2 separate regions of the Homo sapiens genome follow, and region 1 is linked to region 2. Evidence: fine-mapped expression QTL. Tissue or cell type: whole blood. Region 2 holds a variant in brackets; the other region holds the start of a gene. All regions are shown on one strand. Distances are between the middles of the regions.

Region 1 (2,623 bases), 130 kb before region 2:
TTGGGTTTAGAAAAGTGTTTCAGGCAATACATATTGTAGAGGCTTAGGGATCACAGTAATCTGAAAATCCCTGGAAAATATTCACAAAGAAGGTAGACCATTGGGATGGGTTTGAAAACATAGATAAGAATCAGATAACCTTAAGAGGAAGGAGGAAGCAAACAGTGAGTCTGGTTGTAATAGAGAAGGGAGTGGGAGAGGTTAAGGAGGGTGGGAAGGGGCCAGGTTGGCAAATCCTTAGTGGTAAGGCCTGGCTGTGGGGCTGAAGATGATTCTAAGGGGTCCAAGGTCAACAGCAGTGTTTAAAATTAGATTGCCAAGTGCATGGATTCCCTTTCCTTTCCTCCTTTTCTGTCCTTTAAAAGCAGAACCTGATTAGACAGTCTGGGACATTCCCAGCCCTAGGCTAAAAAGCAGCGATTGAGGCACAAAGTATTCTTGGCCCTGAAGTTGAACCTCTGGGGATGGAGCTCAGGGAAGTCATAGGGAGTTTGGGCCCAGGTAGGATCAGACCTATCCGCAGGCTTACATAGGCTCCAGTGATTAAAGCTCAGCTTCCTGAATATGCCCCGAGGATAAAAGAGACTTTTCCGAGTGAAAGGCATTTTCCAAGGCGCTCTCAACGGGAATGTCTGAGATAGCGAACTGCGGCTGCAGAGCACCAGCTGAACGCACACACACAAGTGTCTTCTCACGGTATGATTAGTGTTCACAGGTTTCGTCTAGCTCATCAGAAATGAAGAATAGCGATGATGAAGTGACATGTCACCGGGAGGGTTGAAAAAGAAAAAGTGCGTAAGAGGGTCCCAAAAAGAACCAGCTTCCGTGTAGACGGGTCTGCAGAATCTGCCGTCTCCCGTCTTCTGGGTCCCCTGGCCCGCCCGGAGTGGGGACAAGGAAATGGAAAGCCCGGCTCACCCGGCTCTCCTCCCTCGCAGCCAGCAGATGGCTCCCGGGCTCTCTCGCGAGCCCGCTCGCCCCCTCTCCAGACGCAGGGCTTTTGCGGTTTGGGAGGGAGGCTGCGAGGAGGGGCGCGGTGCCCGCCGCCGCCACCGCAGCACCGCACAGCGTCTCTCCTGGGGGTGCGACCTACGCCGGGGACCCAGCGCTCGGGCACCGGAGGCCGGCCTCGCACCGGTGCGGAGGCCGGCTCTCGCGAGGTGAGGAGGAAACGCAGGAGGAAGAGGAGAAGGAGAAGGAGGAGAAGGAGGAGGGCCGGAGCTGCCCCCGCCCAGCCGGAGCCCGGCAGGAGCGCGAGGAAAACCTACTCCCCCCGCCCCGCGCCGCTCTCCCCGCCCTCTCCCACGCCTTCCGCTTTCACCTAGGGCTGTAGGTGCGGCGCGGAGGCTGGGCGGGAGCTACGCCGGCCCAAGCCCCGCCGGGGACCAGCGAGCCGGGAGGAGGAGCAGGCGCCACAGCCGCCCCGCGCCCCGCGCCCGCTTGTAATCCGGTCCGCTCCTTATTCAGCCGCCGGGAACTGCGAGGAGGCGTCATGTAGCAGCAGCAGCAAATCCGCCTCGCATTTGCAACTCTTTTTTTTTTTTTTGGTGGGGCGGGGGGCGCGCGGCAAAATTCTGTCTCCGCCCCCCCTTTTCTTGCCCACTTCCATTTGCAAGCTGCATCTGCCTCTCTAAAAAAATTGAGGAGTTCGGGGAAGGGCAGGGGGCCATAAATCAGAGTTGGACCTGCAATAACCCCCACACCTACAGGGCAACCATGACCGAGGAGAGCTCTGACGTTCCCAGGGAGTTGATAGGTAAGATTCACGCGGTTGTTGGTTTTCCACCTTCCTCTGCGTACTCCTCACCTCTCTCTCCCTTCCCACCTCTGCTTTCCCGCAGGTCTCGAGAAGTCTTGGCGCCCCTTAGGGCAGAGTGGTGTTGGGCAGGGTCACTGGGGGTGCCGGGAAGTTTGTTCCCATCCGACCGCCTGTAGAGCCAAGTGCAGAGAGGGAAGGCTTCGGGGAGGAATCGGGAGTCCTCGGGAGGTGGGTGGGAGGAGGGTCTCGACTGTGAGCCCTGGGCACCTCCTCTTGCCCGGAAGCGGGGATCCAGGTTGGCGAAAGAAGGGGGCGGGCCATCTTAGACTTGGGAGTTCTGCAAGCGAGGGGAGCCCTTTACAGCTCCCAGCCCACTGCCCCAAACTCGGGAAAGTCCGGGAAAGCCTATTGGAAGGACAGGTGGCGAGCGCACAGTAGGTCGTCTCCGGCACGTGTCAGGCGCTTTCCTGAAAATGCCCCGCGGGAGGTGATCTTCTGACACGCAGACTTGGGGGAGTGGGCGCTAGTCTGGTAAAATGACTGGGCTTGGCAAGGTGTGGCTTGGTGTAGCCAGCTGGGAGCGAAAGGGTTACAGGGCTGACGCAGACTCAGGCCAGGAAATAGAGGGTTAATGATAAAAGCCTTATTTTAATAATGATTAACCTACCGATTCTCCCTATAGGGGATCTCTTAGGGAACCCGTGTGTGTTACGCTGTGCAAGGTGACCCATTGTTTGAGTACCTTGAGGTTTTTTTTTTTTTGGTGGTGGTGGGGGCGGGGCTGGTTAAGTCTTGGGGTTTAACTTAATTATCTGGAGGGTTAAAATGGCAGAGCTGAAATAGGATGGGAGAGTGTTCTGAAAA
Region 2 (2,500 bases):
CGTGAGGTTGGATTTAGCAATCAAGATTGGCACCTCAAGCAGGAGAAATTTAAGTGGAGTTGTGGGGACAGAAGCCAATTTTGAACACTAGATGAGTGAATTGGAGGCAGGAATATGAAGACACTGAGTATGGGTACCTTTTTTGAGAAGTTGGGCTCAAAGGGTAGAGACAGTTAGAGGGGACCTGCAAGAGGTGTGTAGGATCCAGGCATATAGCTCTAGGTCTAAACATCTCTATGTTTGGATATTTAGAGATGGAAGAGAAAGGATATTTAGTTGCTTAAGGTTCCTGCAAAGACAGGTGGGATGTAACCCAGAGCCCACACGAAGGGACGGGCATTTATCTCCAGCACTTCAGAAGGAGAGGAAGAGGAGGGGGTGGGTACAGCTGCAGATGCAGGCAGGTGTGGAGGTTTGGAGTGGAATGGTAAGTGATACCATTCTGATAATTTCTGTTTTCTCTGTGAAGTAGGAGGGAAAGTCATCTTCCCAGATGAAGGGAACGGAATCAGGTTGCTGGGTAAGATCAGTTCTCCAGCTGTGCTTGGCAGCTACCACTGCAAGCATGGAATAGGCGGCTAGGTAAGTTCAGCCAAGATTGAAGTTTTACTCTGTGGGAGTAATAAAAGGACAAGGAACACGAAGGCTAAGGACATTAACACATGGAGGAATGATTTCAGTGGAGGTTCAGTTGGATGAAGATAGGTTAGTGCTGATGGAGAATGACCTGGCAGTGTCAGGGGGCAATAAACAGGGTAGTGGTAGTACCTGAATAAGGGAACTAGCTATGAGTGCTTCTCCAACTGTAATGCTAATGTGAATCACCTGGGGATTTTAGTAAAAACGCAGATTCTGATTCAGCAGGTCTGGGCTGAGGCCTCAGATTCTGCATTTCTAACAAGTTCCTGTCACGCCAGCCTCTCTGGCCCGTGGATCACACTGTGAGGGCCAGGTGTGGTGGTGCATGACTATAATCCAAACACTTTGTGAGGCCCAGGTGGGAGGATCACTTGAGCTGAGGAGTTTGAGACCAGCCTGGGCAACATAGACGTCATCTCTACAAAAAGTTTAAAAATTACCTGGGTGTGGTGGCTTGTGCCTGTAGTAGCTACTTGAAAAGCTGAGGCAGGAGGATCACCTGAGCCTGGGAGGTCAAGGCTGCAGTGAGCCGAGATTGCACCACTGCACTCCAGCCCGGGTGACAGTAAAAGCCTGTCTCTTAAAA[TAA/T]AAAAAAAAAAAAAAAAAAAAGATTTCGGGCAGAGAGTGGGATGCCTGAATTAGAAATCGTTTGACATGGTATAATCTCAAGCAGTAACTAACATGGCCCAGGATATGACAGAGTGAACAAGAAGGCCGAAGAATTCAAAGGCTTCCTGATCATCATATCTTTAGGGATGCAATGATTTACACTGACTATCGCCAACACTTTTCTAAGCACCTTGTGTGTATTACCTTCTTTAATCCTTATGACAACCTCCAGTGAGGTATATATTGTGATCCCATATTTTACAGATGAGGAAAGTAAGGCACACAGAGGTCTTTCTCAAAATCATTCGTGCTTGTAAGTGGTGGGACCAGAATTCAAACTGGGGTGGTACAGTTTCAAAGCCTAGTGCTCTGCATGATTGGATGCTGTATTGTCCCCTGATGAGAGAAGTTGGGGCTGTATAGAAAGTGTGAGGTGGGAGGATCATTTGATCCCAGGAGTTAAGACCGGCCTGGGCAATGTAGTGAGACCCTGTCTCTACATAAAATAGAAAAAAAAAAAAAAAGATTTTGAGCCAGGTATTAGCCTCACCTATGAATGAAGTTCAGCATATCTAGGAGAGTGCTAGGCACAGTACTTGTAGGCTTTTTACATGTTACCCCTTTAATCCCCACAACTGTCCAACAGAGTCTATTTCATACTGATTCTACAGGTAAGAAAAATAAAATTTAGGAGGTTAGGTAGTTGATAAATGGAGGAGTTGGTAATTTGATCTAAATTGGTCTGGATTCAAAGCCCATTCTTCCTTTATATCAAAGTTTATCCCATCACCATATAGAAATGGAAATTCTCTTCTAATTCTTAAATAGGTTATAGTTACCATGGGAGTATTCTCCCCCTTGCTCTGACTCAAGCCACATGCTGAAGATGATGTGTTACGAATAAGGCTGAGACCAGGAGACTGGGCTTCTGGGCTCAGCTCTGTTTCTAACTAGCAAGTTTGCACACTGTCTCTGTAGGTCTCACACCTTTGTCCCTGTGGATCATTTTCAGAGCTATATTCTATAAGTTTGAGGACAATTATTATGGCTCCTTTTATATTAGTATCTACTGTATGCTCAGCACTTGATAGGTTATCTCTAGTACTTAAACTAGGATACAGATTGTCTCCAATTTAGAAGTGAAAAAGCTGAGGCCTGGAGATTTCAAGCAACATGCCTAATACCTCTCAGTCCACAAAATGGCAAAGCTGAGATTTCGCCTGAAGTGTGTCTGACTCTAAAGCTCATGTTC

What was found. PIP is the estimated chance that this variant, and not a neighbour inherited with it, causes the effect.
Region 1: CARMIL1 starts here. The variant in region 2 is fine-mapped to the expression of CARMIL1 in whole blood (INTERVAL, PIP above 0.99).

What each region holds. Positions count from the first base shown.
Region 1 is chr6:25,278,080-25,280,702 of GRCh38, forward strand. It overlaps CARMIL1 (capping protein regulator and myosin 1 linker 1), which reads left to right and starts at 1,295. Exons shown (of 37, transcript NM_017640.6): 1 at 1,295-1,756. The coding sequence starts at 1,717. RefSeq lists a silencer at 1,023-1,492.
Region 2 is chr6:25,407,067-25,409,566 of GRCh38, forward strand. All of the region lies in intron 2 of CARMIL1 (capping protein regulator and myosin 1 linker 1), which reads left to right. All of the region lies in intron 1 of LOC124901281 (a long non-coding RNA gene), which reads right to left. Among named protein-coding and RNA genes, the nearest start is that of CARMIL1, 130 kb to the left of the region's middle. The variant TAA/T (reference allele first, on the strand shown) is at 1,226.